Regions from separate parts of the Homo sapiens genome. Here region 2 is linked to region 1. Evidence: fine-mapped QTL for protein levels in blood plasma. A gene starts in region 1. The other region holds a variant in brackets. All regions are shown on one strand. Distances are from middle to middle.

The links. PIP is the posterior inclusion probability: the model's chance that the variant is causal. Protein levels are from antibody-based Olink assays in UK Biobank. Linkage for the fine-mapping came from a reference panel and not from the study's own genotypes, which makes the PIPs less certain.
Region 2: its variant is fine-mapped to the plasma level of the PHACTR2 protein (UK Biobank, PIP above 0.99).

Annotation. Positions count from the first base shown.
Region 1 is chr6:143,667,782-143,683,660 of GRCh38, forward strand. PHACTR2 (phosphatase and actin regulator 2) reads left to right here and starts at 10,184. Exons shown (of 13, transcript NM_001100164.2): 1 at 10,184-10,428. The coding sequence starts at 10,383. RefSeq lists an enhancer at 9,528-10,376 and a silencer at 10,126-10,425.
Region 2 is chr6:143,643,639-143,659,517 of GRCh38, forward strand. It overlaps a transcript of PHACTR2 not described here. Among named protein-coding and RNA genes, the nearest start is that of PHACTR2, 26 kb to the right of the region's middle. The variant C/CTGTTTGTT (reference allele first, on the strand shown) is at 8,752.

The sequences.
Region 1 (15,879 bases):
CGATGGAGTTTTCTAAATATACAATCAAATCATGTCATCTACAAACAGAGACAATTTGACTTCCTGTCTTCCTATTTGAATACGCTTTATTTCTTTCTCTTGCCTTATTGCCCTGGCCAGAACTTCCAATACAATGTTGAATAGGAGTGGTGAGAGAGGGCATCCTTGTCTTGTGCTGGTTTTCAAAGGGAATGCTTCCAGCTTTTTCTATTCAGTATGCTATTGGCTGTGGGTTTATCATAAATAGCTCTTATTATTTTGAGATACGTTTTATCAACACCTAGTTTATTTAGCATTTTTAGCATGAAGGGATGTTTTGTCAAAGGCCTCTTCTGCATCTATTGAGATAATCATGTGTTTTTTGTCATTCGTTCTGTTTATGTGATGGATTACATTTATTGATTTGCGTATGTTGAACCAGCCTTGCATCCCACGGATGCAGCCGACTTGATCGTTGTGGATAAGATTTTTGATGTGCTGCTGGATTCGGTTTGCCAGTATTTATTGAGGATTTTTGCATCTATGTTCATCAGGTCTATTGGCCTGAAATTTTCTTTTTTTGTGGTGTCTCTGCCAGGTTTTGGTATCAGGATGATGTTGGCCTCATAAAATGAGTTAGGGAGGAGTCCCTCTTTTTCTATTGTTTGGAATAATTTCATAAGGAATGGTACCAGCTCCTCTCTGTACCTCTGGTAGAATTCGGCTCTGAATCTGTCTGGTCCTGGGCTGTTTTTTGGTTGGTAGGCTATTAATTACTGCCTCTATTTCAGAACTTGTTATTGGTCTATTCAGGGATTCGACTTCTTCCTGGTTTAGTCTTGGGAGGATGTATGTGTACAGGAATTTATCTATTTCTTCCAGATTTTCTAGTTTATTTGGATAGAGGTGTTTATAGTATTCTCTGATAGTAGTTCGTATTTCTGTAGGATCAGTGGTAATATCCCCTTTATCATTTTTTATCGTGTCTATTTGATTCTTCTCTCTTCTCTTCTTTATTAGTCTGGTAGTGGTCTATTTTGTTAATCTTTTCAAAAAACCAGCTCCTGGATTCATTTATTTTTTGAAGGGTTTTTCATTTATCTTTCTCCTTCAGTTCTGCTCTGGTCTTAGTTATTTCTTGTTTTCTGCTAGCTTTTGAATTTGTTTGCTCTTGCTTCTCTAGTTCTTTTAATTGTGATGTTAGGGTGTCGATTTTAGATCTTTCCTGCTTTCTCCTGTAGGCATTTAGTGCTATAAATTTCCCTCTACACACTGCTTTAGCTGTGTCCCAGAGATTCTGGTGTGTTGTGTCTTTTTTTCTCATTGGTTTCAAATAACTTATTTATTTCTGCCTTAATTTCGTTATTTACCCAGTAGTCATTCAGGAGCAGGTTGTTCAGTTTCCATGTAGTTGTGCGGTTTTGAGTAAGTTTCTTAATCCTGAGTTCTAATTTGATTGCACTGTGTTCTGAGAGACAGTTTGTTGTGATTTCTGTTCTTTTACATTTGCTGAGGAGTGTTTTACTTCCAATTATGTGGTCAATTTTAGAATAGGTGCAATGTGGTGCTGAGAAGAATGTATATTCTGCTGATTTGGGGTGTAGAGTTCTGCAGATATCTATTAGGTCTGCTTTGTCCAGAGCTGAGTTCAAGTCCTGAATATCCTTGTTAATATTCTGTCTCGTTGATCTGTCCAATATTGACAGTGGGGTGTTAAAGTCTCCCACTATTATTGCATGGGAGTCTAAGTCTCTTTGTAGGTCTCTAAGAACTTGCTTTATAAATCAGGGTGCTCCTATATTTTGTGCATATATATTTAGGATAGTTAATTCTTCTTGTTGCATCGATCCCTTTACCATTATGTAATGGCCTTCTTTGTCTCTTTTGATCTTTGTTGGTTTAAAGTCTGTTTTATCAGAGACTAGGATTGCAACCCCTGCTTTTTTTTTTCTTTCTTTCCATTTGCTTGGTAAATATTCCTCCATCCCTTTATTTTGAGCCTATGTGTATCTTTGCACACTGATAAGTCTTGGCTCTTTATCCAACTTGCCAATCTGTGTCTTTTAATTGGGGCATTTAGTCTGTTTACATTTAAGGTTAATATTGTTATGTGTGAATTTGATCCTGTCATTATGATGCTAGCTAGTTATATAGCCTGTTAGTTGATGCAGTTTGTTCATAGTGTCGATGGACTTTACAATTTGGTATGTTTTTGCAGTGGCTGGTACCAGTTTTTCCTTTCCATATTTAGTACTTCCTTCAGGAACTCTTGTAAGGCAGGCTGGTAGTGATATTTCTCAGCATTTGCTTGTCTGTAAAGGATTTTATTTCTCCTTTGCTTATGAAGCTTAGTTTGGTTGGATATGAAATTCTGGGTTGAAAATTCTTTTAAGAATGTTGAATATTGGCCCCCACTGTCCTCTGGCTTGTAGGGTTTATGCAGAGAGATCCGCTGTTAGTCTGATGGGCTTCTTTTTGTGGGTAACCCAACCTTTCTCTCTGGCTGCCCTTAACATTTTCCCTTCATTTCAACCCTAGTGAATCTGATAATTATGTGTCTTGGGGTTGCTCTTCTCGAGGAGTGTCTTTGTGGTGTTCTCTGTATTTCCCGAATTTGAATGTTGGCGTGTCTTGTTAGGTTGGGAGAGTTCCCCTGGATAATATCCTGAAGAGTGTTTTCCAACTTGGTTTCACTCTCCCCGTCACTTTCAGGTAGACCATTCAAACGTAGGTTTGGTCTTTTCACATAGTCCTATATTTCTTGGAGGCTTTGTTCATTCCCTTTTATTCTTTTTTTTCTAATCTTGGTCTTCATGCTTTGTTTCATTATGTTGATCCTCAATCTCTGATATCCTTTCTTCTGCCTGATCAATTCGACTATTGATACTTGTGTATCTTCATGAAGTTCTTGTGCTGTGTTTTTGAGCTCCATCAGGTCATTTATGTTCTTCTCTAAACTGGTGATTCTAGTTAGCAATTCCTCTAACCTTTTTTCCAGGTTCTTAGCTTCCTTGCATTGGGTTAGAACATGCTCCTTTAGCTCAGAGGAGTTTATTACCCACCTTTTGAAGCCTACTTCTATCAATTCATCAAACTCATTCTCCATCCATTTTTGTTCCCTTGCTGGCGAGGAGTTCTGATTCTTTGGAGGAGAAGAAGGCCAAGGCCTTTTTTTTTTTTTGAAATGGAGTCTCGCTCTGCAGCCCAGGCTGGAGTACAGTGGCACGATCTCGACTCACTGCAACCTCCACCTCCCAGTTCCAGGTTCAAGCAATTCTCCTGCCTCAGCCTCCCGAGTAGCTGGGATTACAGGAATGCGCCACCATGCCCAGCTAATTTTTGTATTTTTAGTAGAGATGGGGTTCCACCACGTTGGTCAGGCTGGTCTTGAACTCCTGACATCATGATCCGCCTGCCTCAGCAGCCTCCCAAAGTGCTGAGATTACAGGTCTGAACCACTGCACCTGGCCCAAAGTCTTTATAGTTAACTGCAAGGTCCTATGTGGTTATAATCTCCTTCTCCTCATCTTTACCTCTCTTATTCTATGTACTCCAACCACACCATTTCCCCTGGATTCCTCAAACATATGCCATGCTCCTGTCTTTATATTAACTGGTCTTTCTTCTTGGAACACCTCTCCCCCAGATAGCCATATGGTTAACTCCATTACCTCCTTTGTGTTTTTGCTTAAACATTATCTTCTCAGTGAGGACAACTGTGAACACCACATGCCAGTCCAATCTCTCTTACTCTTCTGAATTTCATAGCACTTTTCATCTTCTAAATTGTTATAAAGTTTACTGATTTATTATGTTTACTGCTTATTTTCTGTCATTCCATTAGAAGGGAAGCTCTATGAGTGCAGGTGTTTTTGTATTTTGTATAATTCTGTCTCCTAAGTACCTAGAACAAAGACTGGTAAAAAGGAGATGCATAATAAATATTTGTTGAGTGGTGAACCAATCAATGAGTTATTATTAATATAGAACTAGCATATATGTAACACAATATAGACCCAAAGTCTTTTCATGGAGCAGGAATACAGTGAAATACAGTTACATCCCAAATGCCCATTAACTGGTAAACAGATAAACAAACTTTTGTATAGCCATACAATGGAAGGCAACCTAGAACAAAAAGGAACAAAATACAGATACACAGAGCAACATGGATGAATATCAAAAACATATGAAACAAGCCAGATTAAAAAAAACTGTACATAATATTATTCCATTTGTAAGAAATTTTAGATAAATCAAAAGTATGGACATGGAAAGCAGGTTGGCAGTTCCCTAATGCCAAGGGTGGTACAGGGATGTGAAACAGGAATTAACTGCAAAAGGACATGATGGAATACCTTAGGGATCTCAAAGTTTTCTGACACTTGAGTGTGCTGTTGGTTGGACTACATGTTTATTAAAACTTATTGAACTGTTTGCTTTAAATGGGTACATTTTAGGGTCCATAACTTATTCTTCAAAAAGCTGCAAGCAAGCCTGGGCAATATAGTGAGACCCTATCTCTACAAAAAAAAAAAAAATTACAAATAATTAGCTGGGCATGGTGGCAGGCACCCATAGTCCCAGCTACTCTGGAGGCTGAGGTGGGAGGATTGCTTGAGCCCAGGAGTTCAAGGCTACAGTAAGCAATGATTATACCACTGCACTCCAGCCTGGGCCACAGAGCAAGACGCTGTCTCAAAAACAAAAAACAAACAAAAAAAGCTGCAAGCAATAAACAAACAAATACAGTTAATTCTGACCACCTACTATTAGAATTTAATCTTTCTTTAATTCAGGAAGCACTTCACAATCTTAGGGCACCTTCAGAATGAATGAGCACCTCTGTGTGGCAAAAATGTGGATTTAGTAATTTGCTAAAGTTCAGAGCCTTCTCTGTACTAACCTACTGGGCATCCCTAGCACTTGGAGGAACAAACTTCTTCTTTTTTATTTTTATTTTTATTTATTTATTTCTTTTTGAGACAGAGTCTCACTCTGTTGCCCAGGCTGGAATGCAATGGCTCAACCTCAGCTCATTGCAACCTCCGCCTCCCAGGTTCAAGTGATTCTCCGGCCTCAGCCTCCCAAGTAGCTGAGATTACAGGAGTGCACCACCACGCCTGGCTAATTTTTGTATTTTTAGTAGAGACAGGGTTTCACCATGTTGGCCAGGCTGGTCTCAAGCTCCTGACCTCAGGTGATCCGCCCACCTCGGCCTCCCAAAGTGCTGGGATTACAGGCATGAGTCACCACTCCCAGCTGGAGGAACAAACTTCTCTTCCTCCACTGTTAGGATCATGTATTTGTAGGCTGCAACACCCACCCTCCACCGTACCCATACTATGACCTCCGCCACAGGAGAGTCCATACCTCACTTATCCTTATGCCCATGTGCTAGAGGTACCACGCCCATGGGAAGTCCTCAGTCAATTCTAGGTGAATGAGTAGATGATTATTTCAGAGGGGCATACAAAAGAAAATTTACAGTCACAGACAGACTCGATATTCTCTTGCTATGGAGTCAACATTCTATATTATTACCAAAATTTTACATGTATTCCCAGATTTTTTTTTTTGTCCATACTTGGAAGTTACCATTAAGGAGATAACATAAATGCTTATTTTTAATTTATCATCTATGTATTCAGTACCCTCTATTTGCCAGGCAAATTTTGTTAGTTTCTAGGGATGGATGTGATGGTTAACAAAACAAAGATTTGGGCCTTACTGGAAGCAATTATTTTGTGTAAATTGGGCAGTCATATAAAAGATGTCTTTAAGGACTGTTCTCTTTAGATTTTGGTCAATAAATTAAAGATTATTCATTTTATAGCAGTTTTTAGAGTTTTAATACTATGGATGAGTACTTTGTTTTGCTTATGAAATGAAGTAGAGCAAAATTACAGACGCTTTTCCTCCCAGGGTAGGGAGAATGTCTTTGGAAAAGGAAATTCCAGCACCACCCCTTGAGGTCTTTATTTTCCAGCATAAATCTTCCAACTGTGGGGCTCACTCACTAAGCAAGCACACGTGAGCCACACCCCGCCTCTGCAGAGACTCACGCAGGGTGAGGCAGAGGCAAGGTATTTTGTTAATCCTTTTAGCTTGAGCAAGCAGAAGAAGGAAAACTCAGGAAATAAATCACATGAAAATATGAGAACAATAGGAAAGAAAAGCCTGTCTTTCAGGTTTGTTTCCTGTTCTAATACTTGTGGAATGTGGTCTTCTACTGATGCTTAATATAACTAGAATATGCAAAGTTGTAATTCTTTCCTTAACAAAAGTTTTCCTTTATCTGTTAGCATTATCCTGTTCAAACCAGCATCTCTCAGAATTGTTAAAATCTAAGATATAGTAGCCATTTAGTTGCAACTTTACCATAGAGTAACATTTTACAAAGTAAACATTAGTTACATATACAGAGTTTTCACTGAGTTTATATTATCTAGTAAAGCTCCCATTTGCTTTTTATATTTTTCTAAGTAAGCTGACTCTTACAAAATGTAGCCAAGTTTTGAAGACATACAAAGTTTTTAAAAACCAGAAGATCTTCTAGTAAAAACTACCCAAATAGTTAAAACAACTTTTGCATATCGTTTTTAGTATACTATTAGGAAAACTGCTAAGTTTTCATTCATTTCCTTCCCATTAAGAAATAATTTTTCTATTGCTACAATTCCCATTAGCCAAGGAAATGTCACTAATTCACAGGGTGTCTATGGTCAAATCTAGAAATAAGGGTGTAAATTAATGTAATCTTCATCTGCTTGTATATGGCCACTATCAACCACTGTTGCCTCCCAGGTCACTGCTGTTCTGATCAACCATCTCATCTCTTGGGACTCTGCCTAACCCTTCCCTCCCATCATAATTCCTCCACCCCTAACATCTGGTGTCTCAAAATGAATCCTCACACAGCTGGCAGCATCTGGACAAGGCAGAGACCTCCAGGATTAGTATTCATGGCATTTGTGTTCTGAGGAAGGTTCCTTCTTCTTCCTGCTCCAGGCTAGATTTGGCTGCCTAGAAAAATCTGGCAGTAACCTAAGTTATAGGATTTGGTAGTGGTGACTGTAGTAATTGTAAACCATCTTCTCTAAAGGCACCAAGTTGTATGTCTGCCATTTGGACTTTGACCTAGAAAAGAACTTTCTCACAAATGGTCCAGATTGCCAATGTTTAGGCTTTTGTCCGCTTTAACTTTAACCTAATAGATATAGTGGCTTCCATCCAGGAGGAGTGCAAGTGTCACTTTGGGTACCCCAGGTGGGTGAGTCTAAGACTTCCCACATCAGACAAGCCAGTGAAGTCTGTGTTACAGGGTAGAATGCTTGAAAACCTGATAAGTACAACTTTGTGTCATAAAGGCACACTGGCTTTCAGAAGGGGAAATTCTATCTCACTAATTCACTTTCTTTAGTTTCTTTCTGGAAATAAATGAATAAATCACAGTAGTTCTTTCAGAGCTTGAAAAATATTTAGAGTGTTCCATGGAAAAAATCAGTAGATGCCATTAGTCTATATTTTTAGGAAGGCTAAATAGAAGCTATTCCTCAAACTCAGCCATGGTATGATATGATGCGGCATTATTATAACAGAGAAAAGTAGCGGTGTGCTGAAGGCAGTTCACACAGGCTGGTGGGCCAAATTGTTACATTTCAAGGAATTTTGCAAGCTGTTTGATATCAGTTTTGCTAGCTGGTTGAAGGCCTGTAGAATAGGTTATTGTAGGAGTATTTACATCACAGTAAACAAAGCAGTCTGAGGCCCCCTCCTGCCTCCTCACCCCCAGCCCAAACCAGTTAAGCATTTACCAAGATATCACTGGATAAGAGATTGGTTTAGAAATAGAGAACAAAGGGTGGGACCAATGGGATAAATGCTGAAGAATTATAAATAGATAGCTTCCTCAGAGTTAGGTATTGGGTCTAATCCTGTTTAGCATTTTAATAAATTCCCTAGAGAGAGGTAGTATACAGAGAAATGTCCATGCCTTTCAGATGACATTAAATGTTTCCAGAGTTAAACTATAAACCCATGGGATTAACACCCAGAACTCTTAGTAAAACTGTGTGAGTTCTAATAAGGCAAGAGTAAGGCAATTTGGGGGAAAATTATCTTAAAATTCTCTTGTTAGGTGATAATATCTAACCTTTGCGTTACAACCTAGAAATGAAATTTAGAGATTTCTGTAGACGTTTTCTATGTTCATTAGTATAACTTGTTAGCTGTGATAAAAAGGCCACTTAAATGCCAAGTTCCATCAGAAGCTCTAGAAACCAAGAACAAGAACTGTCCCACTCTTAGAAAGAAAACTTAGTGCACACTTCCTGCAGTTTTGGTTGACATGCTTCAAGGATAATGTAATGGAACTGGAAGAGTTTCAGAGAAAATTGCATAACCTGGTTAGGGTATTATAGGAATCCCAGATGAGGCTGAAGATTATATTAACTAGCAAATCATGAAAGGTCTTGAATAAGGTAAATATAGCTGTATTAAGCAATTCCTGAAAAACTGGAACTATAGTGCACCTCCTTGATCTTTGAAATAAGAATTTATAGAAGTAATAGAAATATGCTATTGTTTCTCAAGGAAAAGAAGAAATGATAGCAACCTTAAAGTTTAACTTTTATCAGTATTTAAAAATTATTACAGTTACATATTTTGAATGTGCAAAAGGTACTGTATATTTCCTCTGATCAGTGACCTCCCTTTATCAGAAAGACTGTCAAAAGGAAGAGTGAAACATTCTCCCTCTTAACTTACCTTTAACCACTTTTGTTTGTTTGTTTTTTTCTTACGGCAACTCAAAGCAAAGAGCTGGAGGAGCCAGCCATTATAATTGCTTACTCTCATCGCTTAGCGCCCCAGGTGGGATGTGTTTCCAAAACACATTTTTGTATTTATAAGGAAATGTAGTTAGGATTAATTTTATTGTCCTAATTAGAACTCACATTTTGGTTAAATCCTCAATTTCATTAAAAAAAAAAAAATCAGTGTTTCTTAAGAGTGAATTAGGCAAAGGGAAGAAGACAATGGATCACACTTTTTTAGGGAAAAGATCTTCCTCACAGTGGTGGGTGGGCTATTTGGGTGTGAAAAAACATAGGGCAACTTAATTAACCATGACAAAACAGACAAGTAAGTGCCTTTCAAAAAAATCAAACAAGGCTCTGCACGATCTTAATAATAAAAATTTTAGAAAAAAATGATTTTCATGTTAGTTCAGAGTTGATTGTCTAGGATAAATTAAAAAATGAAAGCTGTGGTAAATGACCTAAATATATTGCACTTTCTGATATTTTTTACATTTTAATGAAATATATGCCTTCAGCAAAGTGCACACATCATTACAGACATCTCAATGAATTTTCATAAAATGAACACATCCAGTAACCACCATCCAATCTAATGCACCATATACAGATGTTCCATATACTGTATATATATATACACACATTATATATATATAGCATGAAGATTACTTATACTAATTAATCATTAACTGTAAATATGAAGAATATTTATTTGTATTCATATTTTTAAGAAGATTGAGATTTAACAGGATATTATAGAAGGGTTTAATTCACCTTTCAAGTTTGTTATAGTTTTTTTCCCCTTTTGTGTATTTTAATCACTTTATTTCACAGTAATTCTTTTGAAATAAAGGAGAGGTCAGCACTCCAGAGTTTTAGGTGGGAGACAGCAAAAAGTATATTTTGTTGATCTCACACGTAGACCTACCATTTAGATTTGTTGTCAAGCCTGATTGAGGCCATTAGTGCCGTTTTTAAAAAATTATATTTGTTAAAAGGAAGATAATTTTTAAAACGAGAAAAAAATGGGCACAAGACATGAGAGTGCCACAATACTGCAAATAGAATGTAAGGAAGGAAATAACTTTTAAGAAACAAATTTTGTTAAATTAAGTACCGTGACTAAATACTTTAATTCCTTTTCTTGTAGCCCGTAAGGATCATTTGACTTTGAACCTTTTAAGTCAAAGAGGAGTAGTCTGAAAGCCTGAACTCCCTACCACCCTGAGGGGGTGCGGGTGCGGCGGGGCCGGCTGGGGGCTTCCCCCACCCCCTGCTCCTGCGCCCTCCCCCCGCTTCCCCCTCCTCCCCTCCCTATCGCCCTCACCCCCCTTCTTCCCCCGTGACCCCTGACCCCAGCTAATCTGCATAGAGGAATGACAGGCATCCGCTGGGCAGGATCCGCCGCGCCGGCTGCGGCCGGCCGGGCTGGGAGACCCGCGCGGGGTAGAAGGTGAGGGGACCCGGCGGGCCGCTCGGCACAGGCCGGGACATGAACGCCTGGAAGTCTGGCTGGGAGCGGACCCATGATCGAAGGACCAAAGGAGCCGCTTGATCGCTGGACCTGGCCCTGCGACCCCAGTCATGGGCCAGACCTCGGTGTCCACGCTGTCCCCGCAGCCCGGCAGCGGTGAGTCCGGGGCGCACGCGATGCGCTCCCGCCGCGCGGGCGCAGGGCTGGCGGCGGGGCCCCGGGGCAGGCAGGGTTAGTCGTCTGGTCGGGTTCCGCTCGGACCCGCCAAGTCCCTCGGAGAAACCCCAGAGGTAGCGCTCGCCAAACTCTTTGTCGTGAAAGAGGAATGCCTTTTGGGATCCAGCCGATTTTACCTTAAAGGCACAGGCTCCATTTTTCTGTGCGCGATGCCTCGCTGTGGTTTTTTATCCAAATTATTTCGGAGCCAGAAACTTACGGGAAACGCCATTTGCGTATTACAGTGTTTTTAAAAACGCGAAACTTAGAGAGCAAGAGAAACATGCCAACAGGTTTTTCTGTATTTACGCTTGGCTTCCGAACAGACTAGGACTGAATGCTTTCAAGCTTGTCAACTGATTTATGGTTTGTTATTCGGAGTAGAAGCGCTGATCGCCTTATCCTGGCAGACGCTGAATACTTAATAACTAGCCCCGAAATGCGTAATTGTTTCAAATGAGACTTGTTTTGTTTATAGTAGATACAGCAGCTATAACATTTAGGGAAACATATCTCATGAACTTAGTTCTCCAGGACTAAAGTTAGTTTTATGGAGACGTGTGTAACGTGTCTGAGTTCTAATGCTCTGTTTTAAAAGTTTCTTTTTTCCATTTTCTTAAACAAAAAGAGGGAAGGAAGGTACGTCTGGCATTTCCCCGACAGTGTAGGGATAAAAAAAAAAAAAACTGTTTGGTGGTGTTACTTGTGATTGGATAAGGAAATAAATTTAAAAGGTACTATTTTGATATTTTTCCATCAACGATTAAAAATAAATAATACTCGAAGGGACCGTTTATGTTACTCATTGAGATATTTGATACACTTTTTAAATTGTGCAAACATCAACAGGATCTTGCTGAAAGGAAATGACAGGGTACAGAGGAAGGTTTTTTAATCTGCCTCAGGATGTCTAGCTAGATAGCATTCTGTCATTCCAACCCCCCACCCCACTTTATACCCAGTGGGTTTCTTTAGGTAGCACAGCTTCACTCCCTGAGATACCACAAGCTTTGCTGAGGTTTCTGTTAATACCACAGAAGACCCTTCTGCAAAGAAGAGACATCAGAATCAGAATATACCTTCTTTACCATTAATGACATGGCTACAGCTCTGAAATCAAAGACCTCATGTTGACAGCTTTTTGAGAGATATTTGCGGGGAGGGGTTGAGTAGGATTTTAAATTTAGTAAACTATTTTGTGCAAATAAGACTTGGTTTCCTTTGTCTTACCTTAAAGTGGTGTGAGACTTCTTTTCATTTCAAGGAAGGGTTATATTTTTACATTTGTGCACCGGCGAAGATAGAATTAAATCTGTACTCCAATACAAGAGTATACAGAAAGTATTGTCCTGAATTTAGTGATTTTATCACAAAATATTACTCGAGTGAATATTAGAAAAGCAAATTTTGCCTTAATAAAAATCAAGGAATATTATATAAATGATGTCTAAGAAGCAAATAAAATCCTAAAGTGAGACTCCCTACGTCTTAGTACAGCAAAAAAACCCGGATTGCTATAATTCCAAATAAAATGACTGATTATAATGAGAAACTGTAATCTACTTAAGTAAAAAGTGTTTTAAACAAAAATTTATGCTTGATCATGAAAGATAATTCAGAGAAATATCTCACGGAACGGTGTTATACTTAAATTGCAGGTCCTCAGTTTTGCGGATTAAAAGTTTGTATGAATTGAAATGACCAATCCATACATCATAAATACAGGGTTTTTTATTTTTCAGTTAAGGAATGACAGTGGTTATGACTTAAGTTGTGGTATTGTAAAAGAACAGTTTTCTCGTGGTATCCAGTGTCTCTAAATCCGTTAGAGCTACCCTGTTTCCCTGAAGGTTTGCCATCAGATTCCAAATGAAAACCAAAAAAAAAAAAATTTAAATTAAATAACGTTTGCTGAGTTTTATATTCATGTCTGTATTTTTCTGAGTCTGAGACTGTCAAACTCTCTACTATTCCAGGTATTTTGTTCACTCCTTGTTAACTGTTTAACTCTGGCTTTACAGATGGCGTGAAGATCCTTGTTCTGTTTGATCTTAGCCATTGACTAGTTGTTTAAGTCTGGAGCAGCTGCTTAGGATTACAGTATTAAAGATGATTCTCATCTTAAATGCTTAGTGGGCGAAAATCTGTTTAAGTCAAAGGAATCAATAGCACAGAGTTTAATTATTCATACTTATCGCTCAATTTGGCCTTTTGTAAAAATCTTCATTATAGGCTAGAAGTTAGCTTGCTTTCCCCGTTTTGACTTTAGGCTCTCTAGAGCCTTTCAGTTTAGGTTGCACCTAATTCTCTGGGTTCTAGGAAGACCATTAATAATTTTTTCTGAAAATATGCAGTTAGATCCATTATTAAAAAGAACAGCTGTATTGATGTATAATTCACATACTATAAAATTCACCCATGGAAAGTGTACAGTTCATTGTTTTTCAGTGTGTTCACAGTGTTGTGTGACCCTCAATCTCTGTTCCCACCCTATTCAACCAGTGGGCTCTACCTTAATGAAACACTAATCAACTTTTCTGTCTCTATAGATTTTCTTATTGAGAACATTTCATGTCAATGGAATCATAATGTGTCATTTTGTGACTGGCTTCTTTCAGTTAGCATAATGTTTTCAAGGGTCATCCATGTTGTAGCATGTATCAGTTGTTCATTTCTTTTTATTGCCAAATAATATTCTACTGTATGAATATGCCACATTTTATTTATCCATTTATCAGTTGATGGACATTTGGGTTATTTCTGCTTTGGGCTATTTATGAATAATGCTGCTCTGAACTTAATGTACAAGTTGTTGTGAAGATATGTTTTCATTTCTCAGGTATATATTTAGTAGTGGAATTGCTAGATTATATGGTAGGTAGTTCTATGTTTAACCTTTTATGGTGTTGCCAAACAGTTTCCAAAGAAGTTAGACCATTTTACATTCCCACCAGCAGTGTATGAAAGTTACAGTTTCTCCACATCCTTACCAACATTTGTTACTGTCTTTTTGATTATAGCCATCTTAGTAGGTGTGAAGTTATATCTCATGGTTTTGATTTCCTTTTCCCTAATTACTAATGACCTTGAGCATCTTTTCATGTGCTATTGGCCATTTGTATATCTTCTTTGGAAAAAATGTCTTCAGATCCTTTGCCTAATTTTAGTTGGATAATTTGACTTCTGTTGGAGTTTTAGTTCTTTGTATACTAGATCCAAATCCCTTGTCAGGTACATGATTTGCAAATATTTTCTGCCATTCTCTGGGTTGTCTTTTCATCTTGGTAGAGTGATTTGCAGCTCAGAATTTTAAAGTTTTGATGATGAGCAGTTTATCAATTTTTTTCTTTTGTTGTTTGTGTTTTTGGTATCACATCTGAGAACTACAGCCTAACCAAGGCAAGAAGACTTACACCTGTGTTTTCTTCCAAGCGTTTTATAATTTTGGCTGTTACATTTAGGTCAGTAATACATTTTGAGTTAATTTTTATGTATGGCGTCATGTAGGGTTTCATTCTTTTACATGTGAATATCCAATTGTTCCAGCACCATTTGTTGAAATGACCGTTCTTTCCCCATTGAATGGTGTTCCACCGTTGCCAAAAATTGATTGACTGTGTACATAAGGGTTTACTTCTGGATTCTCAATTCTGCTCCATTGTCTCTTCTTATGCCAGTTACCACAATGTCTAGATTACTGTAGCTTTGTAGTAAATTTTGAAACCTAGAAGTATGAGTTTTTCAATTTTGTTCCTTTAAAAGTTTCTACTGGTTATTCTGGTTCCCTTACATTTTCATATGAATTTTGCAATCAACCTGTCAATTTCTGCAAAAAAGCCAATTAGAGTTTTGATAGCAATGATATTGAACCTGTAGATCAATTTGGGTAGTACTGCTGTCTTAACAATATGAAGTCTTCTAATCCATGAACATAGATGCCTTTCCATTTCTTTGTATCTTCTTTCTTTTCACCATGTTTTGTAGTTTTCAGTGTAGTGCAGTGGTGCGATCATGGCTTATCCACTGCACCCTCAACCTTCTGGGCTCAAGCGATCCTCCAACCTCAGCCTCCTGAGCAGCTGGGACCACTGGTGCCCACCACCATGCCCAGCTACTTTGTATTGTTGGTAGAGATGGGGTTTTCTGTGTTGCCCAGGCTGGTCTCAAATTCGAGATCTCAAGAGATCCACCCACCTGGGCCTTCCAATATTGCAGGGATTATAGGCATGAGCCACCATGCCTGGCCTGAACTCATTTTTTAGTCCTAGTAGTTTTTCAGTGGATTCCTTATGATTTTCTATATACATGATCATACTATATACAAGATCTATTTACATGTGCAAAGAAACAACATTTTAATTCCTCCTTTTAGAGTTGAATGCCTTTTATTTTATTTTTTTCTTACTTAATAGTTCTGGCTAGAACCTTTAGTCCAATGTTAAGTAGAAGTGGCAGTTGTGAGCATTTTTGTCTTGTTCCTGATCTAACAAAAAAAGTTGTTTTTTTGTTTTTTGTTTTTTGTTTTTTTTTACCATTAACTGTGCTATTAGCTATGGGTTTCTTCATAGGTTCACTTTGTCAAAAAGTTCTCTGCTATTCCTACTTTGTCAGTGTTTTTATCATGAAAGATTGTTCAATTTTGTCAAAGGTTTTTCCTGCCTCTATTGAGGTGATCATATGGTTTTTGTCCTTTATCCTATTCATTTGTCATGTTACGTTAATTGATTTTTGGTTGTTAAACCAACCTTGCATTCCTAGGATAAATCCCACTTGGGTAATGTGTATAATCCTTTTTGTATGTTGCTGGGTTAGGTTTACAAAAGTATTTTACTGAGAATTGGATCCATTATTTCTAAGTACAGGCTAAAACGATATGCCCTCAAATAGGATGGTTTCGGTACCCTCTGGCATCATGCCCTAGGAGGATTGAGACTTCTAGTATTTCATTGTGAAGTGTAGAGCATGGTAGATTGGATACAATACATTTTTGATGAATATATGAATGAGTCAACAAATAGTCTCAATAAGCAGCCTGACTGCTTTAAACCAATGATTATATGAATGAGAGGTATGTATTTTTTATATTCTTTTTTTAGTCCAAGAATTACATTACTCTGGCTCTATTGTCTGAAGGGTGGTATCTGAATCTAGTAATTATTTCTTCTAGTTTTTTCCAACCCCACCCCATTTTCACGGTGCCACAGATCAGCACTTGGCTGCTTCTCCTCAATCCTTGGGTTGAAAGGGCAGACAATGCCACTGTCCCCATTTTTAAGAGACAAGAGAACAAGTAAATAAAGTGTGCAGGATCACACCTATGTTGTGATAGAACCTGTATTCATCTGTGTCTCTGGGTTTCCAAGTTTTGTTCAGGGCCCTGTATTTGTCTTG
Region 2 (15,879 bases), 24 kb before region 1:
AACAAAATAATAACTAAGTATACAGCTCATAAATGTTCAGATCTAGATAATTATGTTTAATTTCTGCTTTTGCTTACCATTTAAGATCAAACCTCTAGGTATCTTTTAATCTAGCTCTTTAGATTGTTAAAATGTTTTATGTGAAATGCACATTTAGTTTATAAGCAGCAATTTAGTGTCCTGTTTCCATGAGACATTGATATTAAATAAAACACTAGAAAGAAGTAATCTAACTTTTTTCTCCTTTGTACAAGCCCCTCTTTGCACCTCATGTGATGTTGCTTACTGGATATCAAAAAAGATTAGAAGCAGGGTGATTTCAGATCAAAGAAGAAGCATCTGCCTACCCCCAGGGTTTTTAAATATTTAAATATTTTTCTCGTTAAAAAAGTAACTCAACAGAACTCTAAATAAAATACAATTTTAAGGAACCAATGTATAGTCATTTTAAGCTATTGCCAGCAAACCACCAGAAGCGAGGTGAAAGGCAAGCTATTATATAATCACACTTTTTCCATTGTATTGAAAGTTAAATTCAGCTTATTTGCCAAAGAATGCTTCAAATACACTGAAATTTTACATAATAGTACAGGCTAAGGCGGGTGGAACACAAGGTCAGGAGATCGAGACCATCCTGGCTAACACGGTGAAACCCCATCTCTACTAAAAATACAAAAGAATGAGCCGGGCATGGTGGCGGGCGCTTGTAGTCCCAGCTACTCAGGAGGCTGAGGCAGGAGAATGGGGTGAACCCGGGAGGCGGAGCTTGCAGTGAGCCGAGATCGCACCACTGCACTGCAGCCTAGGTGACAGAGTGGGACTCCATCTCAAAAAAAAAAAAAAAAAAGTACAGTTATGAACCTGTATTATTATATCACAGTTAGACTCAAATGACTCTTAATGACATTTATTTGGACTCATGTATATTTTAGGCTTTTTTTTTAGCATAATTCATTGACTCTAAGATGTAATACTTTTCACATTTTATCAGCTTTAAAGTCAGGATATGTATTATAATCAATGGTTTCTTACAAATATAATTGGCAACCATGTTTTGTTTTTCTTAGTGGTATGTAAAACAATGGTGTATCTTAAAATCAATCATGGCATCTTAGGGTTTGTTTTTTTTTTTTGCCTTTTAAGTAATGTTTATTTTTCATTTGCTTGTTTTTTCTGTTTTTTGATATTTTTAATTTTATGTCTGTAGGCTATTGGGGAACAGGTGGTGTTTGGTTACATGAGTAAGTTCTTTAGTGGTGATTTGTGAAATTTTGGTGCACCCATCACCTGAGCAGTATACACTGCACCCCATTTGTAGTCTTTTATCCCTCACCCCCTTCCCACCCACCCTGAGTCCCCAAAGTCAATTGTGTCATTCTTATGCCTTTGCATCTTCATAAGTTAGTTCCCACTTATGAGTGAGAACATACAACTATGGAAAACAGTGTGGAGATTCCTTAAAGAACTAAAAGTAGATCTACTATTTGATCCAGCAACCCACTACTGGGCATCTACCCAGAGGAAAAGAAGTCGTTATACAAAAAAGATACTTGCACACAGATGTTTATAACAACACAATTCACAATTCCAGAAATATGGAGCCAGCCCAAATGCCCATCAATCAACGAGTGGAAAAGAAACTGTAATATATATATATATGAATATATATGAATATATATAGATGATGGAATACTACTCAGCCATGAAAAGGAGTGAGTTAATGGCATTCGCAGTGACCTGGTTGAGTTTGGAGACTATTATTCTAAGTGAAGTAACTCAGGAATGAAATGAAACATCATATGTTATTTGGTTTTTATAACAGGAGATATAGCTTGTTTATTTCAAGCCACACTCAGTGTTGGAAAATGCTGTTTCTTATTCTGTAGGTCCAGCATTCCCAAGCTAAAAGAAAGTTGTGTGGCGCTAAAGTGTTTGGCAAGGTTGTATTATTGATAGGTGAATTGCTCATAGGAAGAGAAAAATTTAAGTGACTATATTAAGAATGTTCTGGTATTTATAGTTCTCTGTCTTTTCCATTCTTGAGAATGTAATGTTCTTTGTGTTACTCTTTAAAGCAATGGAGAATAAATAAATTGTTTAGTAAGTCATGTTGACATTATTCCTTAAAAAATTGAAAGAGACTGTATGTCCCTTCCTCATAGAATACACAAAACTAAATTACAGCTGAATTAAAGATTTACATCTAAAAGCACTTAAAAGTACCAGAAGAAAATATTTTTTAAAGTGTGTATTCGTATCACTAGAGTGTGGAAGTCATTCCATAATATGACACTAATATCAAAATTTATAAAGAAATGATTGAAAGGATTGATTACCTCAAAATATATAACAATAGTCTATCAGAAAAGATGAAGCATAGATTTAAAAAAACTGGAGAAGAATAATTATGCAGAGATAAACGTGTCAGAAACAATAGAATACTTTTTTTAATATTTTACATCAAAATGTATATTCTCCAGTCCTTAAACAGGCATTCAATGAGCATCTCTTATGTCTGAGGTCATAGGCTGGGTACAAGAGAGGTATAAATTAGGCTCAAATGGGGCCCACAAAGAGCCCCAAATCTAGGGTTTTATTTTCATTGTTAGAGTGTCTATGTCTATGTCAGTAATTGGGATTATTTTTAAACTGAAAAACTCTATCCCACTTTAAAACTCCTAAATAGAACAAGCATTTATCTAACCTTAATATCATAGCATAACTCCTTAAAGTTTATTGACTTTAAAATAACTAAATTCAGTAGCTCTCAAATATCCATAGTATGAGTGACAGACCTGTAAAATCTAATTGACTTTATTTGGCAGACACAGGCAAACACATACATGTATTTTAACATAATATGATGACTACTTAGACATAACCTGATCCTTCAAATATAACTGAAAAAAAGGTGCTCCATTTTGCATGATTTATTATTGAACTAGAGTTCCCTTTCCTAGGTACATGGAGCAAATAGAGAAGATAATTAGAATTCCACTTTTCTTGAAATGTCAAGAAGGGCAGGTGTACTCTGACCTCAGCTTTAAGTTTAACCAAATATATAGGGGGATTTGAGACTGCTCCACATGTTTCTCATGGAATTTCCCCCAAGCACTACTCTCTGAAGAGCCTGAAAAAGTATGTAAGAAAAGCCTTGTTCTCTCTTGACATGAAGTTATGCTCAGCCTGCTTATTATGCTAGAGCTTAGTGTCTGAATAGCAGAGAACGTTTTCTCATCCTTAGTTATGTTTGTTGTTCTAACATAACAGTCTTCTGATCACGATGATTCTCTATAATCAACATTTCTTAAGTGCCCAGTGAGGTAAGCCTTGCTTCTAAAGAATTTTAAAATGTATTTTTAGCAAGGCTCTAAAGATTAAGTCTTCACCTTGCTGTCAGCAGTTACATTTTTTTCTAAGGGGTAAAAAGCACAAACCAGAATTATGCTAGATCTCCATTAAGATATAAAACATTTTATGGTGCCGGGTTGCTGTTGACCTACATTGATAATTGGAAATATTACAACTTATTGCAAAGGTACTAAGTATTATCTATTATAATATGTGTTTTGCATCCCTTTCTGTGATGTAGATAATATTAGTCCTATTTTGCAGATGAGGAAACCAAGACTCTGAAAGCTAAAAAGCTTGCTAAAGTCACGTGGCTAATGAGTAATAACAAGATTCAAAATCAAAACAACCTGACCCTGAAACCCTCCTGTTAACCAGTGACCTTTTCTCCTCTCAAAATTCTGCAGTAAATGGAAACCATTTCACATGTGTTTATTCATTCACACCTACAGTGTGCCAGCTCCCAGTGTAGTCTAGGTATACTATCCATGGTGAAGAGGACAGCCTAGGTCGTTGCCCTCATGGGCTTGCATTCCATTGAGACAGATACATTTCTCAGTGCTTAATTTAGTTAAGTGAGATGGGGGCGGGAAAGAAGAGAAAATAGAGAGACAGAGAATCATGGGGTTTTGACTTTACGCGGGAGTCAGGGAAGGCCTCCGTGAGGATTTGTTAGCTGAAAGGAAACCTTGGTTGAAGTGAGGGAGGAGGAAACCTTGCAGATATCTTGGGAGAAGAGCACCTGTACAGAAAGAACAGCAAGTGCACAGCCCCCTGTGCTGGGAATAGGCTTGTGTCTGAGAACCACAAAAAAAGCCAGTGTGGCTGGAAAGGGCAGGTAAGGGAGAGCATAAGGGGAAATGGGCACAGAGCTAGCCACAGCCAACTCAGGGAGGCGTTGTAGGCCCTGGTAAGGATTTAGGACTTTCTTTTGACTTCTGTGATAAGAAACCAGTGAAGGGTTGGGCTTGGGGAAGTTGCCCCTGGCTGTGTGGCCGCAGTGGAAATAAGGGAAGCAGGTAGGATCCTGCCGTGACCCGAGAGAGATGTATGGCTGCGACAGAGCCACAACAGTTGGGAACTGGTGGGTGATGACATTTGGGGTCTGTTTTGAGAATTCAGGGGATTTATCATCTCGTTGGTGGCAGGAACAAAACTCATAGCAGCATAGTGCAAGAATACAGACAGCATCCTGTTAAGGACCGCAGTGTTTTCTGCAACTTCTTCCATGTGTCTACTGCAAATTGTCTGAGAAGGGCAGGGCCTAGGAAACATGGTGGAAGTTTTGAGATAAAAATATTGCAGCCCATCTGCATTTCCCTGGGAGCTCAATTAGTCATCACTTTGCCTTATTATTTACTAAGCGTTCATCATAGTTCTAAATAGATTCCTCAAAAGAATTAAATTCAAAGGGCAAAGGGGTAGAAAATGGATCTGACTGTCTCTGCACTGGGAGTCCCTGGGAGGGGGGGACGAGGAGGAACAGACCAAACAAAGCATGGCTGATAGAAAGGGAAGCCTGCGATGGGTGGGTTGAGTCAGGTAAGACAGAGAAGCTTGCTAAGGTGGAGTGGAAGGAAATCCTATCATTACTGTGGCTGCCCTCTGAGGTAGGAAGGAATGAAGAGCCCGGGAGGTTTAAAGTGCTCTGAAGCACTGATACTGTAAATGTGGCATGCTAGCATAGGGGAAAGTGTAATTCAGACAGGCAGACTACTCTGTCTGCATTCCTACAACTGCTTCTCCTCCCCAGGATGTGCACGTGTGTGTGTCTCTGTGTGTGTGTGGGCATGTGTCTCTGTGTGTGTCTGTGTATGTCTATGTGTATATCTGTGTGTATACAAGTGTGTGTCTGTGTATGTGTCCATGTGTGTGTCTATGCATATGTGTCTATGTATGTTTGTGTGTGTGTGTGTGTCTGTCTGGGTCTATGTGTATGTCTATGTCTATGTATGTTTGTGTGTGTCTGTGTGTCTATGTGTATGACTGTTTCTATGTATGTCTCTGTGTGTCTCTGTGTGTGTCTGTGTGTCTATGTGCATGACTGTGTGTGTCTGCATACACTCAAAATGCTTCTGTGGAATAAAGTCAATTAGATTTTGCCTTTCCACATGGCTTCTGTATGACCTGTGCTTGACCAACCATCAACCAAAGCCCACGGCTTTTCCTCTGAAAGGGATGCCACATTTTTGTGTGTGTCTGTTTGTAAACAGTGACATTCAAGCACAAGGGTTAGGGATGGAGTGGATAAGGAGGGTGTGAAACAGCACAAATCAGAGAAAATTTAAGAGGTACAAGAAGAAGGTTTTTTGCCTTGGCTTTAAAATGCTGGTAAACACTAACTAATTCTATGAGGCCAGCATCATCCTGATACCAAAACCTGGCAGAGATACAACAAAAAAAGAAAACTTCATGCCAATATCCTTAATGAAACACCAATGCAAAAATCCTCAACAAAATACTGGCAAACCAAATCCAGCAGCACATCAAAAAGCTTATTCACCATGATTCAGTAGGCTTCATCCTCAGGATGCAAGGTTGGTTCAACATATACAAATCAATAAATGTGATTCATCACATAAACAGAACTAAAGACAAAAAAACCACATGATTATCTCAATAGATGCAGAAAAGGCCTTCAATAAAATTCAACATCGCTTCATGTTAGAAACTCTTAATAAACTAGGTATTGAAGGAACATAACTCAAAATAATAAGCACCATATATGACAAACCCACAGCCAATATCATACTGAATGGGAAAAGCTGGAAGCATTCACCTGAAAACCAGCACAAGACAAGGATGTCCTCTCTCACCACTCCTATTCAACACAGTATTGGAAGTTCTGGTCAGGGCAATCAGGCAAGAGAAAGAAATAAAGGGTATCCAAACAGGAAGAGGAAGTCAAATATCTTTGTTTGCAGATGACATGATCCCATATCTAGAAAACTCCATTGTCTCAGCCCAAAAACTTCTTAAGCTGATAAGCAACTTCAGCAAAGTCTCAGGATACACAATCAATGTACAAAAATTATTAGCATTCCTTTACATCAACAACAGGCAAGCTGAGAGCCAAATCATGAATGAACTACCATTCACAATGGCCACAAAAAAATAAAATACCTAGGAATACAGCTAACAAGGGAAGTGAAGGACCTCTTCAAGGAGAACTACAAACCACTGCTCAGAGAAATCAGAGATGACACCAAAAAATGGAAGAACATTCCATGCTCATGGATAGGAAGGATCAATATCATGGAAGTGGCCATACTGCTCAGAGGGATTTATAGATTCAATGCTATTTCCATTAAACTGCCATCGACAATCTTCACAGAATTAGAAAAATCTATGTTAAAATTCATGTGGAACCAAAAAAGAGCCCAAATAGCCGAGGCAATCCTAAGCAAAAAGAACAAAGCTGGAGGCATCACCCTACCCAACTTCAAACAAAACTACAGTAACAAAAATAGCATGGTACTGGTGCAAGAACAGACACATAAACCAATGGAACAGAATAGAGAAGCCAGAACTAAGACCACACACCTATAATCATCTGATCTTCAACAAACCTGACAAAAACAAACAATGGGGAAAGGATTCCCTATTTAATAAATGGTGCTGGGAGAACAGGCTAGCCATACGCAGAAAATTGAAACTGGAGTCCTTCCTTACATCTTATAGAAAAATCAACTCAAGATGGATTAAAGACTTAAGTGTAAAACCCAAAACTATAAAAATCCTAGAAGAAAGTCTAGGCAATACCATTTAGAACATAGGCATGGGCAAAGATTTCATGACGAAAACACCAAAATCAATTGCAACAAATGCAAAAATTGGCAAATGGAATCTAATCAAACTAAAGAGCTTCTGAACAACAAAAAAAACTGTCATCAGAATGAACAGACAACCTACAGAATGGGAGAAAATGTTTGCAATCTATCCATCTGACAAAGGTCTAATATCCAGCATCTATTAATACAAGGAACTTAAACAAATTTACCAAAAAAAACAAACAACCCCATTAAAAAGTGGGCAAAGGACATGAACAGACACTTTTTTTAAAAAAGATATATATGCAGCCAACAAACATATGAAAAAAAAGCTCAACATCACTGATCATTAGAAAAATGCAAACCGAAACCACATTGAGATGCCATCTCATGCCAGTCAGGATAGCTATTATTAAAAAGTCAAAAAGCAACAGATGCTGGCAATGTTGTGGAGAAAAAGGAACACTCTTACACTCTTGGTGGGAGTGTGAATTAGTTCAACCTTTGTGGAAGACAGTGTGGTGATTGCTCAAAGACCTAGGAGCAGAAATACCATTCGACCCAACAATCTCATTACTGGGTGTATACCCAAAGAAATGTAAACCATTCTGTTATAAAGATACATGCATGTGTATGTTCATTGCAACACTATCCACAAAAGCAAAGACATGGAATCAACCTAAATGCCCATCAATGATAGACTGGATAAAGAAAATGTGGTATATATACACCGTGGAATACTATGCAGCCATAAAAAGGAATGAGATAAAGTCCTTTGCAGAGACATGATGGAGCTGGAAGCCATTATCCTCAGCAAACTAATGCAGGAACAAAAATCAAACACCGCATGTTCTCACTTATAAGTGGGAGCTGAATGATGAGAACACATGGACACATGGCAGCGAAACAACACACACTGGGGCCTGTTAGGGGGTGGGAGGGTGCAGGGAGGGAGAGCGTCAGGAAGAATAGCTAATAGATGCTGGGCTTAATATCTAGGTGATGGGGTTGATCTGTACAGCAAACCACCATGGCATACACTTACCTATGTAACAAACCTGCATATCCTGCACATGTACCCACAAATTTAAAATAAAAAAATATATAATATATATATAAAAGAAAATGTGGATACACAGAGACACCAGACATAGGCACTCACACAGAAAAGGCCATGTGAGGACATAGAGAAAAGGCAGCCACCTACAAACCCAGAAGAAAGGCCTCAGAAGAAACCAAATCAACTGATGCCTTCATCTTGGATTTCTAGCCTCCAGCCTGAGAAATTAAAGTTCTGTTGTTTAAGCAAAAAAAAAAAAAAAGGCCGGTAAACACTGGTGATTCTGCTTTATACTAAAAATGATGGCGGTGATGGGGGAACCGTTTACTAGGTACAACCACAAGATATTTGGTCAAAAAGGATTGAAAGCCACTACTTGCTTTCATTTCTTGAAATACATTTCTTTAAATACATACCATTTCTTGAAATACATTTATTAAGCACAGATGAGTGTTGTTTTGGTTTTTGTTTAGTGATTAAGTGTACAATCCCCAATAAAATATTTTGAAGTTTTTCCAAAGAAAAGAAACTCTGCCTGGCTGCATCAGCTAGACAAAGGTACCTGCGCTG[C/CTGTTTGTT]TGTTTGTTTGTTTGTTTGTTTGTTTGTTTTTCCCTGTATCTGCTGGAATATTTTAGCTGATGGACATTTGAGCTGGCATTACTTAAATGAGAATCTCTTCAAAGTGATGCACGCTGTGTTTTTCCCTGTGAGACGTGTGAATGCCTTGTGGATATTTGTGAGTACACTTAAGTGTTTTTGTTTTCCACTATGCTAGGTCAGTTTTCAGATCTTATTAAAAAGCTCAGGGTTTCGGGAATCCGACTGTTCTGCAAATGCCTGCTGCTGTTGTTAAGTGGCCTGTACCATCCTTGAGTAGGCAAGAAGAGCTGAGATTTCACCAGAAACAGTGACATTCACACCCAGGGGCTGAAATAAGGCGGAATGCCCACCTGGAGATAAGTCTTGGCTGTCACACCTGGACCGCCTGCTCTGGTCATGTGTGTGTGTGATCTATAATAGGGTCACAGCTTTATGAAATTCAGTCACTTTGTAGCAGCCACTCTAAGGAGGATGATTCATGGTCCCTGTGCAGGCACTGCACCCAGCACCTTCTCAGGAACATTCACATTATTTCCAGCTGGATTGAGGCTGGAAGCTCCCTGGCAAGCAATAGAAAAGCACCAGGTGTTCCCAGCAGCGCTCTCTTTCACCCTTGCAAGCTGCAACTGGCAAGAGAATTGTACTTGATGGCACACGGTGTGATGGTTGCCTCACTGCCAGAGCATTTGTTCTGGATGCCTCTGTCCCCAGGTGTCTCAGAAGTAATCCTAATCATTGAACTTTGGCCCTCTGGAAACAAGGCCAGTCGCAAGACACGTCAGGAAGCAATTTGTGCATCGAGACTCGAGCTGCTTTGGAGTTTCCCTCTGGATTTTAGTCAAGCTGTCACAAAGTTCATGACTTGGTTTTTCCACTCTTGTAAAATGAAGGCTGCTCTGACTCCTGCCTGCAATCTCCAGCTTATTGCCTTTAATACTTCCCTGTTGCTATTGCTAAACCCCTTACCTTATACAGACTGTGGAGATGGGCAAAGGAAAAAAATCTCCAAGCTTTTTGATATGGTGCTTTGAAGACACAGTTTACTAATGGCCTGAAAGAATTCATTGCAGCTTCCCACATGCAAAGTTTATTTTCGGAGAGTAGTTTATATATGGAATAAATGGAATAGAATTGAGTCCAGAAATAAACTCTCACATTTTTAGAAAATTGGTTGTCAACAAGGATGCCAAGACAATTCAATGGGGAAAGAAATGTCTTATCAGCAAACAGTGCTAGGGCAACTAGATATCTATGTGAAGAAGAATAAAGTGAGAACTCTACCTTACATCATATTAAAAAATTAACTCAAGATTGATCAAAGACCTAGATGTAAGAGCTAAAACTATAACAGGCTTAGAAGAAAACATAGGTGTAAATTTTCATGACCTTGAATTAGGCAATTATTTCTTTAAAATATGACACTAAAAGCACGAAAAACAAAAGAAACAATAATAATTTGGACATCATCAAACTAAAAATGTTGTGGCTCAAAGGACACCATCTATAAAGTGAAAAGACTACCCAGAGAATGGGAGGAAAGTTTTGTAATGTTGTATCTGAAAAGGGAAGTATCTATATAGAGAACAATTACAATGCAATAATAAAAAGACAAATACTCCAATGTTCAAATGGGCAAAGGATTTGAAAAGACATTTCTCCAAAGAAGATATTCAGATATCTAATAAACACATGAAAAGATGCTCAGCATCATTAACCATCAGGGAAATACAAATCAAAACCACAAGAGACCACTTTATACCCATGGGAATGTCTATAATCAGAAAGACAGGTAATAACAAGTGTTTGCAAGGATTTGGAGAAATTGATGGTGGAAATTTAAAATGATATAGTCACTTTAGAAAACACTCTGGCAGTTCCTCAAACAATCAATCATAGAGTTACCATATGAACAGCAATTCTACTTCTAGGTATATACCCAAAAAAATGAAAACATATATTCACCAGAAACTTGTTTATGAAGTGCAGAGCAGCATTATTCTTAACAGCCTAAAAGTGGAAACAACCCAAATGTTCATCAAACTGATGAATTCGTAAATAAAATATACTATATCCACTCAATAGAATATTATTTGCCAATTAAAAAAAATAAAGGCTGGATACTGTGGCTCACACCTGTAATCTTGGCACTTTGGGAGACTGAGGTGGGAGGATCACTCGAGGCCTGGAGTTCAAGACCAGCCTGAGCAACATAGCAAGACTCCATCTCTACAAAAAGTAAAAAATTAGCCAAGCATGGTGGTGCACGCCTGTAGTCCTAGTGACTTGGGAGGCTGAGGTTGGAGGACTGCTTAAGCCCAGGAGTTCAAGGCTGCAGTGAGCAATGATCATGCCACCACACTCCCGCCTAGGTTGCAGAGCAAGACCTTGTCTCTACAAATAAACAAAAACTAAATGAAGTATTGATACATGCCACAACATGGACGACTCTTAAAAACATCATGCTAGCCGGGCACTGTGGCTCACGCCTGTAATCCCAGCACTTTGGGAGGCCGAGGTGGGTGGATCACCTGAGGTCAGGAGTTCAAGACCAGCCTGGCCAACATGGAGAAACCCCATCTCTACTAAAAATAAAAAATTAGCCGGGTGTGATGGCACATGCCTGTAATCCCAGCTACTTGGGAGGATGAGGTAGGAGAATTGCTTGAACCTGGGAGGCGGAGGTTGCGGTGAGCCGAGATCGTGCCACTGCACTCCAGCCTGAGCAACAAGAGTGAAACTCCGTCTCAAAAAAAAAAAAAAAAAGAAAAAGAAAAAAAAGAAAACATCATGCTAAGTGAAAGAAACCAGGATGAACGTTGTATGATTCTATTTATATGAAATGTCCAGAATAGGCAAATTCCTAGAGAAAGAAAGTACATTAGTGGTTGTCTAGGGTTGGGGGAATTGTGGGGAACAGGAAGTGATGCTAATGGGCATAGGGTTTCTTACTGGGTTGATGACAATACCATAAAATTGATGGTAGTGATGGTCACACAACTCTATGAATATACTAAAAACCATTCCACTGTATACTTTAAATTGGTGAATTGTATGCTATGTGGATTATATTTCAATAAAGAAGATATTTAAAAATCACAAAATATAGATGATTAGAGAATATGGAATATGTCATTAATTATAGATTTTTTCTGCATTTTTAATACTTTCTTTGACTTCACTTGCTTTCTCAGATGTTTCTTAGAAAACATCCAAAGCAAAGATTTACAACTCTGTACGGAAGCCACAGATTTTGTAAGAAAAGGCTAAAGAGAAAAAGATTACTGCAATGTAGTGTTTGCATTTATGATTTACTTTCTATTCACGTTTCAGACTTAGTTATTTACTTTGCACCTATTACCACATACTTGCTATTATCTCTCCATACACATGAAAGTTCTTCGGAATTTTTAGTAAAATGTCCTCAGTTTCTGAGTCAAACCTGTCTACTGAGAATCAAATATAGTTTTCACTAAAGTTGCTTCCTACGAATTGCCATGTGAGAAAAAGAAGAAAACAGACGGGCAGCAGATACACTATTTTCTCCTAGTTGATGGCAAAAATTAGATCTCTATCAAGATCAAAAAAGAGTTCTTTATTCCATGAACTAAGTTTCTTATCCTAAGGTGATTACCGGGGGAAATATTTAAAAGAAGCATCAGTGGAGGGAAGGGTAAATCGTGGGATAAAATACACTCATTGACTTTCTTCTCCAAGCCAAACTGCAGAGGAAATAACAGGCGCAGAGACTTCTAGCAGGGTTGTCTGGTGGGACATGCCCTGGGATATGGGGTCAGTCCATTCCTGTCCAGACCAGGGACTTCCTCTGACCTTGGCAACTCAGTTACCTCCTGTGAGCCTAAGCTTTCTTGTCTGCAAACTGAGAGATCTCTCAAGTCTTTCCTGGCTGTAACAGTTACAGGGGCGTCCAATCTTTTGGCTTCCCTGGGCCACATTGGAAGTAGAATTGTCTTGGGCCACACATAAAATACACTAACACTAATGATAGTGGATGAGATTTTTTTTTAATTGCAAGAACATCTCATAGTGTTTTAAGAAAGTTTACGTATTTGTTTTGGGCTGCATTCAAAGCCATCCTGGGCTGTGTGTGTCCCACAGGCTGCAGGTTGGGCAAGTTTGGTCTATGATTTTATAATCTGATCTAGTATTCTCTGAGACATCAATGCTAGATGAGGATACAGGTAGATGAATGAATATTGTAGTTGAGTAAATATTACACCCGGTGTGTTGATTAATGAATAGATGTGATCATAGAAGAAGCAATATCAAGATTTTTCACCAGCCTCTGGAGTTATCACTGATTAGCAAAGCATTTTAATTAATAACTCAAACAGAAAAAGCATGTCTGTTAGTTTTGCAATCCGCAAAAAGATGAACACAATAGACATGTTAATTCCCAAACTTAGTTTCAAAAAAACTATCTGCCAGGTTTCAAATGAACATAGGCTTGATTGGCCACACGAAAATTTAAATATTATGAATGTTGAATGGCCAACCATAAGTTCAACTTGAACTAAGTTTGATGTGGCTACTTTTTATTTTTTACTTTTCAAAAATTGTGGTACACACTGCATCTTCTCACTCATAAGTAGGAGTTGAACAATGAGAACACATGGATGCAGGGAGGGGAACACCACACACTGGGGCCTGTTTGGGGGTCGGGGGCAAGGGGAGGGAGAGCATTAAGACAAATACCGAATGCATGCAGGGCTTAAAACCTAGATGACGGGTTGATAGGTGCAGCAAATCACCATGGCACATGTAAACCTATGTAACAAACTTGCACATTCTGCACATGTATCCCAGAATTTAAGTAAAAAAAAAAATTGTGGTACAATGTACATACAGTGAACAATTCAGAGTTTTGTCAATTTCATACAGCCATGCACTCCACACCCCTATCAAGATGTAGAATATTTCCAACCCCTGAAAAAAGATCCTTCATGCCCTTCCCAGTCAGTCCCCACCGAGGCAAACACTGATCTGATTTCTCCCCAGTACGTGTTTTTCCAATCCTAGAACTTCATCAGTCATAGAATATGTACTCTTTTGTGTCTGGTTTCTTACACTCAGGAAAATGGTTTTGAAGGTCATCCATTTTCTTGGTTTTATGAGTAGTTTCTCGCAGGTTGTATTCCCTGGGAAGAGACAGAGATGAACACGCAGGGCATTGATAAAGGAGTTCTCTTAGAAGCCACGTCTTTTGAAAGGCAGGGAAAGAAGTCAGATTGAGCAGATTGGGGAATAGAGCTGTGAGGCAGCTCCAGCCCCAGCCTCAGTGCATCCCAGTGGGGGTACTGGCGTGAGATTGTCTGTCAGTTATCTCAAGGTGGGGTGTGGGGACCTTGATGCTTGCCCCGTGTTGATCAGGCATTGGATGTGGGCTCCTTCTACAGGAAGGTGGTATCTCGGGCAAGCCTGCAGCTTTCAGGCAGGGAAGTTCTCCTTATAAAAAGCTGACAGCTGAGGGCTGTCTCCCAGCAGCACTCCTAGCAGCCAGGGGAAATAATCCCTTTATTTCTGAGGGGGGGTCCAGGCAGCACATCACAGTGTTTTATTGCTGAGTAGTATTCCATTAATGGACATACCACAATTTATTTACCCACTCTTCTGTTGAGGGACGTTTGGCCTGTCCAGTTTGGGGCTATTATGAACAAAGCTGCTATGAACATTCCTAAACTGGTCTTTTTATGGATATATGTTTTTATTTCTGCTGAATAAATGACAAGTAGAATTTCTGAGTCATAGGGTAGGTGTATGTTTAACATTACAGAAACTGCCAGACTAACCTGAGCTTCAACAACAAATGTGATTTTAAAATAAATTTGGGTACAAATATAGAAATACACCTTCAAATTAACAAGGGAAATTCAGGTGAAACTTAAATATGAACTTAAAACTTAACCTGAAGTTGACCTCCTTAATGATAAGGTTCTCCTGTGCAGTATTTGAAAACGAATTACAGCACTCAGTCTCTTTTTCCCAACAGATTTTTTTCAATAAAGTACAACCATGCATTGCTTAAAGACAGGGATACAATCTGAGGTGTGTTGTTAAGTGATTTTGTCATTGTGTAAACATGATAGAGTGTATTTTAACAAACCTGGATGGAATAGCCTACTATACAACCTAGGCTGTATGGTATAGCTTATTTCTCCCAAGCTACAAATCTGTGCAGCATGTTACTGCACTGAATACTACAGACAATTATAACACAATGGTAAGCATTTGTGTATCTAAACATATATCTAAACATAGAAAAGGTATAGCAAAACTATAGTGTAAAGATTAAAAAACAAACAAACAAAAAATGGGGTTGGGCACAGTGACTCTGCCTGTAATCTCAGCACTTCGGGAGGCCAAGGTGGCAGGATCACTTGAGGTCAAGAGTTCGAGACCAGCCTAACCAACATGGTGAAACCTCATCTCTACTAAAAATACAAAACTTAGCCGGTCAGGGTGGCATGCGCCTATAATCTCAGCTGCTCTGAGGCTGAGGCAGGAGAATCGCTTGAACCCAGGAGGTGGAGGCTGAAGTGAGCTGAGATCATGCCACTGCACTCCAGCCTGGGCAACAAAGCAAGATTCTGTCTCAAAAAAAAAAAAAAAGATAAAAAATGGCACACTTCTATAGGACACTTACCATGAATGGAGCTTGCAGGACTGGAGGTTGCCCTAGGTAAGTCTGTGAGTGAGTGATGGGTGAATGTGAAAGCCTTGGATATTATTCTACACCACTATAGACTTTATAAACACTGTACACTTAGCCTACACTAAATTTATATTTAAAATTTCTTTTCCTAATAATAAATTAACCTTAGCTTATTGTAACTTTTTTACTTTATAAACTTTAAAAATTTTTTAAACTTTTTTACTGTTTTGTAGCAACACGTAGCTTAAGACACAAACTCACTGTACAGCTGTATAAAAACCCTCTGCTGAGGGTGTCAGGGTCTCATGAAGCTGCAGTCAAGGTGTCAGTAGGGATGTCGTCTCATCCAAGGCTTGACTGAGGAAGGATACACCTGGAAGTGCATGTGGTCACTGGGCAGCACGCCATTCCTTGCAGAATGCCAGACTGAGGGCTC